4 linked regions of the Homo sapiens genome follow. The protein of the gene in region 1 purifies or fractionates together with the protein of each later gene. This does not show direct contact. Each region holds a gene or a part of one and is shown on either strand. Other genes may lie near its edges.

The links. The genes of interacting proteins can lie anywhere in the genome.
Region 2: the proteins of ATP2A1 (region 1) and FAR2 purify together in Homo sapiens (affinity purification with mass spectrometry; one large-scale study listed by BioGRID and IntAct). This does not show direct contact.
Region 3: the proteins of ATP2A1 (region 1) and TIFAB purify together in Homo sapiens (tandem affinity purification; one large-scale study listed by IntAct). This does not show direct contact.
Region 4: the proteins of ATP2A1 (region 1) and TVP23C purify together in Homo sapiens (affinity purification with mass spectrometry, with the first as the bait; one large-scale study listed by BioGRID). This does not show direct contact.

Annotation. Positions count from the first base shown.
Region 1 is NC_000016.10:28,881,488-28,884,987, reverse strand, and holds part of ATP2A1 (sarcoplasmic/endoplasmic reticulum calcium ATPase 1), read right to left. Parts: intron 2,538-3,500; coding exon 2,399-2,537; intron 414-2,398; coding exon 333-413; intron 1-332. UniProt on the Homo sapiens protein: Key regulator of striated muscle performance by acting as the major Ca(2+) ATPase responsible for the reuptake of cytosolic Ca(2+) into the sarcoplasmic reticulum.
Region 2 is NC_000012.12:29,327,278-29,330,777, reverse strand, and holds part of FAR2 (fatty acyl-CoA reductase 2), read right to left. Parts: intron 1-3,500. UniProt on the Homo sapiens protein: Catalyzes the reduction of saturated but not unsaturated C16 or C18 fatty acyl-CoA to fatty alcohols (FAls). A lower activity can be observed with shorter fatty acyl-CoA substrates.
Region 3 is NC_000005.10:135,449,552-135,453,834, reverse strand, and holds the start of TIFAB (TRAF-interacting protein with FHA domain-containing protein B), read left to right. Parts: upstream 1-1,483; 5' UTR 1,484-1,626; intron 1,627-3,112; exon of another isoform or gene 3,113-3,335; intron 3,336-3,885; 5' UTR 3,886-3,895; coding exon 3,896-4,283. UniProt on the Homo sapiens protein: Inhibits TIFA-mediated TRAF6 activation possibly by inducing a conformational change in TIFA.
Region 4 is NC_000017.11:15,546,484-15,549,983, forward strand, and holds part of TVP23C (Golgi apparatus membrane protein TVP23 homolog C), read right to left. Parts: intron 666-3,500; coding exon 576-665; intron 1-575. Other genes in the region: TVP23C-CDRT4 (uncharacterized protein LOC100533496), read right to left, coding at 576-665.

The DNA.
Region 1 (3,500 bases):
GGATTACAGGCATGAGCCACCTCGCACAGCCTTTTGTTTTTATTTTGACAGAGACAGGGTGGCCCAGGATGGAGTGCAGTGGTGTGATCACAGCTCACTGCTGCCTTGACCTCCTGTACCCAGGCGATCCTCCTGCCTCAGCATCCTGAGTAGTCAGGACTACAGGCACTCAACAACATGCTCAGCTAGTTTTTAAAATTTTTTTGTAGAGACAGGGTCTCTTTATGTTGCTCAGACAGTGAGGGTTCTCTGTCTTTCCACTCACCTCCCCCTTGTTGCCTCTTCCTCCCCACGTCCCACCCCCATGCATCTTCCCACCCAGGCCAGCAGACCTGTCAGGATGGACTGGTCAACCCGCAGCGTGGTGGATTTGATGGCGAGGATTCGGATGTCTGCAGGGACTTTGTCCCCCACTGTGGAGAGAGTAGGGAAGAGGGAGGTCACTTGGGAATGGAATTTTCTTCCTTCCAAAGAAAAACCCAATCTGTGTCTGACTCGTTCTCCTCATCCATCCTTCAGGTCTCAGGGAGGCTCCCAGGGCTTGCATCAGGCCCTTGGCTTGAGCTCCTGAAGCTGGCAACCCCTCATCGTGACACCCATCCCTTCTGCCCCCGTGTCCACGGCGAGATGGAGTCTCGCTCTGTTGCTCAGGCTGGTCTTGAACTCCCACATCTCTTCCCACTGGCTGTGAGCCCTGAGAAGGGATGGGCAGGTGTACTGCTCAGCACATAGTACATGCTCAATAAATGCCCACTGAATGACTGGAGGGGAAATTAGGGACAGTCCAGCTGTAGGACAAGAAGCTATAATTGAGATTGGGAGACAGGAGTGAGAAAGGCAAGGAGGAAAGGCAAGGAAAGAACTCAGGGAAAACAGGGTGCATTAGAGAGAAGGGGTGTCGGGGTGAGAGAATGAAGTGGACAGCCAGGGAAGGCAAGGAGAAACGGGAAAATATGGAAATTGAGAAAATCGAGGGCAACCAAGAGGAACAGTGGAGGGCAAGGCAGGAGAGGAGTGAGCGGAAGGTATGAGTGGGCAGGACTCAAGGCAGCGGGGGGCACAGGGTGGTCATGGAGAGGACCACATATCGGGAACCTGACAGCCCGGTCTGAGCATCTCAGGGAGGCAGGGAGGCGGGGAGCCAGGGAGAGTGAGCTGGGGACATGGACAAGACAGGATGGGATGGGACAGGAGAGAAGCGGGGGTTGGGCAGGAAACAGGTGTGGAAGAGTGGGGCGGGCAGCACAGGCTGGAGAGTGAATGGGTGGAGGTGAGGCCAGGGAGACGCACAGGTGGGCTGGCAGGCCATGGAAACCACCTTGTCGGGGGGCTGGAGAGGTGGATGCCCAGCCAGACTCAGAGACCTTAGGAGGAGGCTAAGAATCTCCCAGGGCCGCTGCCTAATTCCGCACTGGTCCCACGGATGGTACTGGGGACAGGGTCCAATCGCTTTCCTTTCCCTCTGTTTCTAAGGATCCCTCCTGTGCCAGAGGAAATGGACCGAGGAGGGAGGAGGGAGGTCGGGATAGAGTCGGGCGGGACACCCTGTCACCCAAGCCCGCGTGATATTTATAGACATTCATGGCGCTGACTCCATGCTGTCACGGCGGCAAGGCTGCCCTGTGATGGGGCGCTGGGGTCTTCAGCCTGCCCTCACTCCCTCTGCCCAAGCTCCCTGGGGTGGTGATTCGGATGTCTGCTACAGGGAAGGAGGCCTCTGAAGAGCCATTCCCCCTGGCAGGGGCCTGGAGCTTCGGGAAGGCCTGCTCAGGGCAAACATAAAAACCGCTGAAGGGGGCAGAATCCCAGTAATCTTAGCCACCCGGCCCCCACCCCTCCCTGGCCAGGCATTAAGTGTCCCTTGCCGCGGGCGGGGCCCTCCTTGAGCTCCCTCCTCCCCGGTCGCGTGCTCTGTGCCAGGCCTGAGTTTCCCTTACATGGTCGGGGGCTCGAGCCTTCGGCCTCCCTCCTCCCTTCTGCCCTCGCTCCTTCCCCTTTGAGAGGCCTCAAGGGCACAGAGAGGTCAAGACTGAAAGCTGACCAAGCTTGGGGTGGGTGGAAGGAGGGGGAAGCCAGGCCCGGGAGGGGGTGGAGACGGGGCCATTGGCAGGGACCGGGTTCCACCTGTTGCCTGCGAGTGCAAGTGCAGGGTGAGAGGATGGGGAGCAGGGGGTCTGCCTGCAGCCTCAGGGACAGGACTGGCTGTTCCTGCTGAGACTCCGCTGGGGAGGGGGGGATGTGGCCGGAGTGGCCTGGGATGACCTTCTGAGGAGTCGGAAAGAGAAGCAGACTCCGTCATCCTCCTGGACACCTGGATCCGAGCCTGACCAGCCCCCGGCATCTCCTAGGCCTCAGCCCCAAGGCCTCCCATCCTGGACCAGCCGTCCCTGTCACTCACCAGCCACCTCCACGATGTCCCCAGGGACGATGTCCCGAGCCTTGATCCTTTGCACTGACTTGCGGTCAGCCCGGTAGACCTTCCCCATCTCTGGCTCATACTCCTTCAGGGCCTCGATGGCGTTCTCTGCGTTCCGCTCCTGAGGAGACAGGGTGGAGGAGGCAGGGTTATACACAGGAGGCAGAGTTATGGAGTTGTGGCTCCTGGCACGGGGGAGGCAACAAAACCCCACACAGGCAGGGGTGTGTGTATGTTGAGGAAACTGTCACCTACAGGTGAAAACAGGTGAGAGGGTTTTGGGGAGGGAACAAAGAAGAATCAAAGAAAATCAGGCCGGGCATGGTGACTCACGCCTGTAATCCCAGCACTCTGGGAGGCTGAGGCAGGCGGATCACTTGAAGTCAGGAGTTCGAGACCAGCCTGGACAACATGGTGAAACCCCGTCCGTCTCTACGAAAAGTACAAAAAAAAAAAAAAAAAAAAAAAAAAGCCGGGCGTAGTAGCACGCGCCTGTAATCCCAGCTACTTGGGAGGCTGAGGCACGAGAATCACCAGAACCTGGAGGCAGAGATTGCAGTGAGATGAGATTACGCCACTGCACTCCAGCCTGGGCAAGAGAACGAGACCCTGTCTCAAAAAGAAAAATCTAAATAAAAAATCAAAGAAAATCAGAGGCTGCCCTGCAGATGCTGTCCTGGACCTGTCAGCACCACAGACACAGGTGGCTCTGCTGCGCCTGTAACACTGGGGCAAAGAGAAAGTGCTATTTCTCTCTTTTTTTTTTTTTTGAGACTGGGTCTCACTCTGTTGCCCATGCTGGAGTGCAATTGTGCAATCTTGGCTCACTGCAACCTCCGCCTCCCCATTCAAGTGATTCTCCTGCCTCAGCCTCCTGAGTAGCTGGGATTACAGGCACCTGCCACCATGCCCAGCTAATTTTTTTGTATTTTTAGTAGAGATGGGGTTTTACCATGTTGGCCAGGCTACTCTTGAACTCCTGACCTCAACTGATCCACCCGCCTCGGCCTCCCAAAGTATGAAAGTGGCTATTTCTATCCTCAGTGTTCAGAAACCAGTGAGCACCAAAAAATGGCTTATAGCC
Region 2 (3,500 bases), on another chromosome or scaffold:
TAAAGGTCAAGTTTGTTAACTTTAAAATGGCTACACGATTTTCTGAGAATCTCTTGGGTTTAATTCATAAATTGCATCTTTCCTCCAGAGTCTATATTTAGCTCTTTTTCTCTTCAGGAAATATTACACTTCTAAAGAATGTAATTGAATTTGACATCTTAAAGATTTAGTAGTTCTCTAAGGCTACTCGATTCTTTCTCCTTTATATGCAAATTAAATGTTATATTTTAATCACAGAAAACCATCTTAGAACTCGGAGGAAAGTAACTAAATATTATTATCCCTATTTAACATTCTAGGCATTCAGTAAACATTTAATAATGAGCCCTTTGCTGATTCATTGTGCATATTGCTTTTGCTTTATCCTCTCAACTTGCATGGAGAAACATGACAAGAAATAACTTTTTAAAAATCATAAATGGGCCAGGCGTGGTGGCTCATGCCTGTAATCTCAACACTTTGGGAGGTCGAGGCGGGCAGATCACCTGAGGTCAGGAGTTCAAGACCCGCCTGACCAATATCGTGATACCCCGTCTGTACTAAAAATACAAAAATTAGCCAGGCGTCGTGGCATGCGCCTGTAGTCGCAGCTACTTGGGAGGTTGAGACAGGAGACGCGCTTGAACCCGGGAGGCGGAGGTTGCAGTGAGCCAAGATCTTGCCACTGCACTCCAGCCTGGGCAACAGAGCAAGACATGGTCTCAAAAAAAAAAAAAAAAAAGTCATAAATGTATTTGCTTTAGATAACTTTTTCTAATTCATTCTTCCTTTTGAACAACGAGTCCTATGAAACTATATTTTCCTTTTCACTTTACTACCAGAAAGCTCAAGAACAAATTCACTGCTTAAATTAACTACAGCAACTTAGTAGGATCTTGTAGATTATGTATGGGCATTCTCTTTTTAAATTTTTAGCTGTGACTTCATATTCTGATTCATATTTTCCTTGGTTTTGCATTTTATTTTATTTCTATTTTGTTCTTTCATTATATGTATTTTTTTGCAAGATACCTCAAACCTTTGTGAGATTTGGAGTATTAATAAAGAGAGCAGATGCGATTGTTCCAGAGAGCTTCAAAGACTTGTCCAAAAGCTGAATTGCTTTTTGAAAGAAATTCCATTATCACTTTGATTGGATATGGTTTTCATAGTATCATTAATATTGCTTAGTCATTCATATAAGCAGAGGCTTTTATTTTTATAGTGTTTAACATTTCTAAGTTTGATTTCAAAGTGGCCCTGTTCAGAATCCTGATTCCATATGGCAATTCAAACTGAATTTTGAGCCACACCAGAATTTGGTAATTACATTTAGTACTATTACTTTTGCTAAGATATTTTTGAGAGCATATGTTAAATCCACTGAAGCTTTGATTCTTTTTCATAAAATTTTGAAAGGTTAAAATAGTAAAATGTCAGAAATGAAACCAAGCTCATTACCTTTTGAGTTATTTCGGCAGGAAAATTCCATGGAGAAAATACATAAGGATAAGCCTACATAGAGTTTAAAGCTAAATTTTAAAAGAACTTACAATAGCTTGAATTTGTTGATTTGTTTTTGATTTATAAACTGGCTTAATCATCATTTCAAACACTAGTTTGAAGAATTTTGTCTATATGTGATATGTAAACATTTCTGAATAACTATTTCATGTCACTTTGAGAGGGAGCAATGATTTCAGATAAAATATCCCTCTAAATCTTGCCTTTTGTGCCTAATATAATATTTATTGTATTTGACATGGATAATGCTTAGGAAATAATTCTAGGGCTTGGATTTGAATCACACTCAGTAAGTTTGGTATGTAGAAGTGAAACCCTTAGCTGGCAAGCAAGGTCAGTTAGCCATCTGATATATTGTTTTTTTTTCTTTTTTTTAATTATTATTATATTTTAAGTTTTAGGATACGTGTGCATAACGTGCAGGCTTGTTACATATGTATACATGTGCCATGTTGGTGTGCTGCACGCATTAACTCGTCATTTAGCATTACGTATATCTCCTAATGCTATCCCTCCCCCCTCCCCCCACTCCACAACAGGCCCCGGTGTGTGATGTTCCCCTTCCTGTGTCCATGTGTTCTCATTGTTCAATTCCCACCTATGAGTGAGAACATGCGGTGTTTGGTTTTTTGTCCTTGCGATAGTTTGCTGAGAATGATGGTTTCCAGCTTCATCCATGTCCCTACAAAGGACATGAACTCATTTTTTATGGTTGCATAGTATTCCATGGTGTATATGTGCCACATTTTCTTTATCCAGTCCATCATTGTTGGACATTTGGGTTGGTTCCAAGTCTTTGCCATTGTGACTAGTGCCACAATAAACATATGTCTTTATAGCAGCATGATTTATAATCCTTTGGGTATATACCCAGTAATGGGATGGCTGGGTCAAATGGTATTTCTAGCTCTAGATCCCTGAGGAATCGCCACACCAACTTCCACAATGGTTGAACTAGTTTACAGTCCCACCAACAGTGTAAAAGTGTTCCTATTTCTCCACATCCTCTCCAGCATCTGTTGTTTCCTGACTTTTTAATGATTGCCATTCTAACTGGTGTGAGATGGTATCTCATTGTGGTTTTGATTTGCATTTCTCTGATGGCCAGTGATGATGAGCATTTTTTCATGTGTTTTTTGGCTGCATAAATGTCTTCTTTTGAGAAGTGTCTGTTCATATCCTTAGCCCACTTTTTGATGGGGTTGTTTGTTTTTTTCTTGTAAATTTGTTTGAGTTCATTGTAGATTCTGGATATTAGCCCTTTGTCAGATGAGTAGGTTGCAAAAATTTTCTCCCATTCTGTAGGTTGCCTGTTTACTCTGATGGTGGTTTCTTTTGCTGTGCAGAAGCTCTTTAGTTTAATTAGATCCCATTTGTCAATTTTGGCTTTTGTTGCCATTGCTTTTGGTGTTTTAGACATGAAGTCCTTCCCCATGCCTGTGTCCTGAATGGTATTGCCTAGGTTTTCTTCTAGGGTTTTTATGGTTTTAGGTCTAACGTGTAAGTCTTTAATCCATCTTGAATTGATTTTTGTATAAGGTGTAAGGAAGGGATCCAGTTTCAGCTTTCTCCATATGGCTAGCCAGTTTTCCCAGCACCATTTATTAAATAGGGAATCCTTTCCCCATTTCTTGTTTTTGTCAGGTTTGTCAAAGATCAGATAGTTGTAGATATGCAGCATTGTTTCTGAGGGCTCTGTTCTGTTCCATTGGTCTCTATCTCTGTTTTGGTGCCAGTACCATGCTGTTTTGGTTACTGTAGCCTTGTAGTATAGTTTGAAGTCAGGTAGCCTGATGCCTCCAGTTTTGTTCTTTTGGTTTAGGATTGACTTGGCAATGCGGGCTCTTTTTTGGTTCCATATGAACTTTAAAGTAGTTTTTTCCAATTCTGTGAAGAAAGTCTTTGGTAGCTTGATGGGGATGGCATTGAATCTATAAATTACCTTGGGCAGTATGGCCATTTTCACGATATTGATTCTTCCTACCCATGAGCATGGA
Region 3 (4,283 bases), on another chromosome or scaffold:
AAACTGTCTTTATTTGCAGATGACGTAATTGTCCATGTAGAAAATCCAAAGGAATTGACAAAAAAGCTCCTGGAACTAGTAAGTGATTAACGGACGATTGCAGGATACAAGATTAATACATAAAATCAATTACTTTCCTATATGCCAGCAATGAACAAGTGGAATTTGAAATAAAAAACACAATGCCATTTCCATTAATATTCAAAAAAGAAATATTTCTGTATAAATCTAACAAAACATATACAAGATCTATATGAGGAAACCCATGAAACTATGATGAAGGAAATCAAAGAACTGAACAAATAGAGAGATATCCCATGTCCATGAATAGGAAGATTCAATACTGTCAGGATGTCAGTTCTTCCCTCCTTTATTGATAGATTTGATGAAGTCTCGTCAAAATCCCAGCGAGTTATTTTGTGGCTATTAACAAACTGATTCTAACATTTATATAGACAGACAACTCAAAAGAGCCAAGACAAAATTGAAAGAGAAGAACAGAATTGAAGGACTGGCAGTACCCAACTTCAAGACTTACTACAGAGCTGCAGCAATCAAGACAGTAAGGTATTGGTGAAAAAATAGACAAATAGATCAATGATACAAAGTAGAGAGCCCAGAAATAAACCCACATGAATACAGTCAACCAATCTTTGACAAAGGAGTAAAGAGAAAACACTGAAGGAAAAAAAACATGGTCATTTCGGAAAATGGTGCTGAGACAACTGAACACCTATAAGCCAAAAAAAAAAAAAATCTAGACACAAACCTTACACATGTCAGAAAAATTAAAATGTACGTATAGAACTATAAAACTCCTAGGAGATAACGCAGGTGACTTGAACACACTGGTGGACTATGAAATGCTGGGCTACGTGAAGGGTTAGCACCTTCACATTCCAGGGCAGCCAGAGCCCGCAGTGCTGGACAAGCGACCATCTTCACCCCTTCCAAACTGCATGCAAATAGGCAGAGCTCGGGCGATGGGGAGTGGGCATGAGAGACCACCTTCTCACTGTTCTGCAGGAGAGATCATGTTCTATGAGTGGCCATTTACTGCCCTCTCCATCCTCCCCGTCCCCAGGCCCTGCCCTCTCCTGAGACCCTCAGGGAAGTGCCATGTTGCCTACAGTTTCCTTGGCCAACCTCTATCCAGCCAGAACGCTCTCCTCATTCTCCCACACTCAGGGGACTCTCCTGTCCCGTAGCCATCTGTCCCAAAAAGCTCTTCTTTTCTAACATGCCTGGGCTGCTTTGACCCCATCCTACTGGCAGGTGGAGAGGAACTTTGCAGATACCCTGGGTGCAGGTCCTAAGGTCCCTGGGGGTGGGGTAGGAGAGGCTGGCAGAACTGAAACCCAGGAAGGCAGGCCATCTGTCTCAGAAGGGGCCCCACGCTGGGGTTTCTCAAACTCTCAGCAGTGGAATTGCACTTCTGCAATGAAAAATTACACTTCTATTTTCTTTCCTAAAGGGAAAAAGGAAGAATGCAACAAAACTGAAGTATGTTCTGCCACGTTCCTGAACTGCAGCCATAGGAGCCCTCCCAGCCCTACCCAAACCAGCCTACTCCCTCTCAAGAGCTCACAGCTGCAGGACTAGAGCCAGATGTGCCCCGGCAATAAGGTAAGTTGAAGCCAGAGGGGCTTGAACCCATGGGGAGAAGGGAGGGCCTGGTGGGGCTGGGAGGAGGGCTCCCCTGAGACACACATTCTGGAGTGTCTTCCTCCTGCCCCGTCCCAAAGGCTGGATTTGTAGGGCTGGGTTTCTGTTTCCCCAGAACACCTGGGATCCAAAAGACACGGGACAGCCTGTCGTGGATGGGCTCCTCTTTAGTGGGAGATTTCTGTTAGCTCTGGTTGGAGCAGAGAGTAAGGCCACACAGCAACTGTGAATCTTTCTTCCTGAGGGATTCTTTCAGGGTCTCTGTGCCGTGATATTAGTTTCTGGGAGTGAACTCTTGAGTTTCCAGCCAGGCCTGACAGCATGGGTTGCCCAGCCCACCTGTCCTGGGCTCAGCCTGTAACGCATACCTCGAGAAAAGGCTTTCTGGCTGGGCGTGGTGGCTTACGCCTGTAATCCCAGCACTTTGGAAGGTCGGGGCGGGCGGATCACCTAAAGTCAGGAGTTCGAGACCAGCCTGGCCAACATGGCGAAACCCCGTCTCTACTGAAAATACAAAAATTAGCTGGGCATGGTGGCGGGCACCTGTAATCCCAGCTACTGGGGAGGCTGAGGCAGGAGAATCCCTTGAACCTGGAAGACGGAGGCTACCATGAGCCAAGATCATGCCGCTATACTCCAGCCTGGGTGACAGTGTGAGACTCCATCTCAGAAAAAAAAAAAAAAGAAAAAAAAGAAAGGCTTTCGGCAGACTATGGCCAGATGGGGTGTGGGTAGAGGCATATGTGTGTCTGTGCCTTAGGGGAAAGGGGGTGCCCTCAGGCCTCTGATAGTGAAAGGGTGCCCTCACTATCAGACTAAAAGGTCTCAGCCATTAACCTACTGCATCTAAAAGGCAGGAGGGGCAGCAGGTTCAAGACCTGGAGGGACATTGAGTTCAAGCCACCTGCAACAGGCTCGCTGTCCCACAGCCTTTGAGACATGATCCCATTTGTGGTCTCTCTGGGTGATTTCACCATGTGTGTGTGTGGGCTTCTCATTTAGCCACTCGGCAAATGTGCCCCTGGACATTTATGGTGGCCAGGCCCTATTTGTATGGGGCAGTGGAACATGGGGCAGCAAGAACCACAGCCCAGACCATACCCAGCCCTTGGGAGGCCTCAGGGGCAGGAAGAGAGGAACTCAGGGAAGACAGGACAAGGGCCCACAGAACTTGGGCATGAAATGCAAAGATGGAATGAATGGAGAGTAAGGTTGGCCAGGTGTCCTGGGGGATTCCCCCTGTTGTGGGAGTCAGAAGGCAGCGAAAGGTCACCTTCCCCAGGGAAGGGAGCTTCACAGGAGAGGTAACACTTGAACAGGGCCTTGAACCGTGGGCAGTATTTGGACACAGAGTTTGGGATGGAAGATGCATTCTTAGGAGAGAAATAATGTGAGCAAAAGCCTGGTACCCAGAGAATGTATAATTAGTTATTCAAATCCACTCAACCCTTGGTTCCTGTTGAAGATGATGGCAGGTCCTGGGCCACAGGGTGCTGGTGGACATAGCAGAGTTTGTGTTCCTCAAACCCATGCAGGAACAAAGCTGGCCATTGTGAGTGGCCTTCCAGCAAGTGCCCATAGTAACCACTCGGAATGTGCTAGCTGTTTACTCTTCACCAGGGTTTCTAGGCAGCCTTTCTGGTGGCCAGGACTAGGCTAAGCATCCTCCTTCTGTGTCCTTCCACACATCCTGATGCTAGAAACACCTCTCTCCTCCACCAGTGGGTGCTCCCAAGAGTCAGGGCTCGGTTCGTTGTTGAATCTGCTTCTCCCCAGCAGCTGGTTCCCTGCTTGGCTCAAAGGAGGATTCAGCAAGGGTTTGTTGTGTGACTGTCAGATACAAGGAAAATGTAGCCAGTCTGTCTACCCTTTCCTTTCCAAGAAGCAGGGCCAAGTTGTCTCCAAATAACCAAAAGATTACCAAATCCCCACCCTGCAAGCCAGCATGCCTTATCCCTTGCATAGACAAGGACAGATATATCTATACTACAGAAATCCAAAAGTCAGACAGAGTGGGTGGCATGTTCTATTCAGAGTATGAGAGAGACTAAGCTCATGACCTTCCACACCAATTCCAGCCTTGGCTCCATCCTGGCTTGGGCAGAGTGATTGTATGAACAGGCACAGGGCCCCTGAGGTGGGCAAGTGTGTCTGGGCTCAGGGAGCCACAGAGGTCTCTGACTGAAGCTGAGCCTGTGTGTCCATGTTCCAACTTCCCAGGACTTCTTCCATGGAGAAGCCCCTCACCGTCCTGCGAGTGAGCCTGTACCATCCCACGCTGGGCCCATCTGCCTTTGCCAATGTCCCACCACGGCTGCAGCATGATACCAGCCCTCTGCTTCTCGGACGGGGGCAGGACGCCCACCTCCAGCTGCAGCTCCCTCGCCTCTCCCGCCGTCACCTGTCCCTGGAGCCCTACCTGGAGAAAGGCAGTGCCCTGCTGGCCTTCTGCCTCAAGGCCCTGAGCCGCAAGGGCTGTGTGTGGGTCAATGGGCTGACGCTGAGGTACCTGGAGCAGGTCCCCCTGAGCACCGTCAACAGGGTCTCCTTCTCAGGCATCCAGATGCTGGTTCGCGTAGAAGAAGGCACATCCCTGGAGGCTTTTGTCTGCTATTTCC
Region 4 (3,500 bases), on another chromosome or scaffold:
GTACTGTCGCCAAGAATTTGGTCCTCTGCTTCCAAAACTTATTTCCACAAGGAAAGTGAATATTCACTATAGTGTAGCAGGCTAACCCAAAACAGACCAGGATCCCCAGGGCTCCTGAAGGCAGAAGCTTAGGAATAGAGTGCTCCAATCAGATATTCTATCCAGCTGCACTCCTCCTCCTTTTTCCTGCCCAGAAATGAAAGACGACCACAGGAGCAAAGACAGAACAAGATGTTAAAAGCAGTTATCTGCTGAGCATAGAGGGATTTATGGAGACACTAACAAAGGCAACACAGAGATCTTTTATCAGCAATCCCTGACAGGCAGCTTAGCACACTGTATGAACTCAGACCCAGTGTCTTCCCTCAAAGGATTCTGTTCGTATATTGCTTGTTTCTGGTCTGAACTAGACAGAAAAATGCATTAAATTCTAGAAGGCCATCTCCTTTAGTGCTGACATGCCAAGTGATTTGGTATAGTGTTTTTAATTCTGAATACTTCATCTTCCAGTATTTAAATATAGTCTACAAATAATTTAGCTGATAACATTATTTAAAACAAAAAAGGCACTTTACCTTTCTAGATTCAAACACCCAATGGCTCTTTCCATCTTCATCAATGTGATTCCACCAACGTAGGCCAACCATTAGTCTACCTGTGACATTCTGGTGAAGATTAATATAAACAGGCACATTTTAAAAGCATTATTTAAAGATCTGTCACAAGCTCCTATCTTAGTGTAACATTTCACAAACAAAAACCTTCAGCTTTACCTCCATAATATCCAGTTAGCAAAGACTACTATGTATCAGGCCTGGCTAAACGATTAAGTAAAATGGTAATGGCAGGACTAATAGGGGTAGAGGTGACAGAGCAAGCAACAAGTCCACCCATAAACATTACACCTTCTCTTTTCCCTCATGAACAATTTGCCCTTTCTCCAGTTCCCTAATTTTCCCTAAACCCCTTGCTATTTGGTTACTGTGACCTACTTTACATCCTGACTATAGCTACATATATTTTACAACTACATATCCCTGAAAATGATTATAGACACTGGCCTTCAGTCAGTCTCTCAAGTGTACCAAGCTCTTTTCCTACTTACTAAGGTAACAAATTAGTTTGATAGCTTTCCTAATCTTTATTTACTCAACAAATATTTACTGAGCATCTACTATGTGCTGGTAATACAACAGTGACTAACAGATACCAACTCCTTCCTCAGGGAAAGAGGTGAAGAGAGGCAGACAACCAATGCACAAATGTACCATTACCAACTGAGTTAAGTCCTGCAAGGGAAAAGTGTGGGATGCTTGAAGAGTATAACAGGGAAATTTGATCTAGTCTGGGTATCAGAAAATGACTCTCTGAGGAGTCAACATTTGGAATGAAATATAAAAGATAAATAAGAATCAACAGTACCATGGATGTTTAATTAATGGTGTCCACTAATAGATTCAGTGGTTCTGTGAACCTCGATGGGTAAAAAAAAATGTTACCTTCATTTTCATTAACCTCTGGCTAAAATTTAGCATATCTTTAAATTATGAATGTAGACAACAAACTATGAATGTAGGTAAAATTAAAAACACCCTGACACAATAGAAATCACAGGCATTTTTTTATTTTGTACTATATTTGCTGCAGTTACCTCAAAATATTGTAGTTTTGTTTTTTGTTTGGTTTTGTTTTTTGTTTTTGAGACAGAGTTTCGCTCTTGTTGCCCAGGCTGGCATGCAACGGGGCGATCTCAGCTCACCACAACCTCTGCCTCCCGGGTTCAAACGATTCTCCTGCCTCAGCCTCCCAAGTAGCAGGGATTACAGGCATGCGCCATCATGCCCAGCTAATTTTGTATTTTTAGTAGAGATGGGGTTTCTCCATGTCGGTCAGGTTGGTCTCGAACTCCCAACCTCAGTGATTCACCCGCCTTGGCCTCCCAAAGTGCTGGGATTACAGGTGTAAGCCACCACGCACGGCCTCAAAATACTATTTATGCTCACCACTGCTTTGAAAGTAGTTAGCATATCATTAAATTATGAATGTAGACAACAAACTATGAACATAGGTAAAATTAAAAACACCCTGACACAATAGAAACCACAGACATTTTTCATTTTGTACTATACTTGCTGCAGTTATCTTAACATATTGTTTATGCTCACCACTGCTTTGAAAGTAGTTATTAGACCTGCCACTAGATCTTACCATTAATAAATTCATAAAGTATAGTAGTCCTCCCTTATCTGCAGGGGATACATTCCAAGACCCCCAGCAGATGCCTCAAATTGTGGTTAATACCAAACCTTATATATGCTATATTTTTTCCTATAAGTACATACCTATGATAATGCTTAATTTATAAATAATGCACAGTAAGAGAATAAGAAATAAAAATAGAACAATTATAACAACATAATCTAATAAAAGTTATGTGAATGTAGTTCTCTCTCCTCACACAGTATCTTACTGTTTAGCGTAGCATATAGCAGTACTGAAACCGCAGAAAGCGAAACCTCAGATAATGGGGGAACTACTACACATATAACTCAATCAGAAATTTACTTTTTTAATATTTTTAAATTATATTTCAATATAAGTGACTTCCTTTGAAATCTTATGTATTTTATATATGTGAAAACTTATTCATGAGTTTATGAAAGGGGCCCATGGCATAAAAAGATTAGGAATCCCTGTATGAAGGTGATGTGGGAGGAAGAAGAGCATTCCAGATAGAGCAGCAGGCACTGATGCCCTAATGAAGAAAGTACAATCTATGGATTTATGGGACTTGGTCATTAATTGGATATGGAGTAGGAAGGAGGCAACTGATACATTTACGGTTTGCTCAAGTAAAAAAATAGTGATTCCAGGCCCCACGAAAGGGAACACTCAAAGAAGAAGAGCTTTTGGGGAGTGGAAGATGACAAGTAGTATTTTACACATGTTAAGATATAAGATGCCTGGCCAGGCATGGTGGCTCACTTGGGTTCAAGACCAGCCTGGCTAACATAGTGAAACCCTGCCTCTACTAAAAATACAAAAATTCGCTAGGGATGGTGGTGCATGCCTGTAGTCTCAGCTATCTAGGAGGGTGAGGCAGGAGAATCACTTGAACCCCGGGAGGCAGAGGTTGCAGTGAGCCAAGATCACACCACTGCATTCCAGCTTGCGTGACAAAGCAAGATTTTGTCTCAAAAAAAAAAAAAAGATTTGAGATGCCTTCAAGACAGCCACATAAAAACGTCAAGAAGACACATGGAGAGGCCTTAAGTTGTGAGGACAAACCTGAATGGAGATACAGATCTGGGAGGCAACACAGCTTACAGATCAGCAATTCAAACCAGAAGCACAGACAGCACTCCTTAGGAAGGGAATACAGGAGAAGAAAAGGAAGAGTCTTATGAGACCAAAATTCCTATGGGAGAGATGCTAAGTAAAAAAAAAAAAGAGCTGGCAAGGGAGACCTAAACCAGAGGTCTCTTCTATAGGTATTTTCA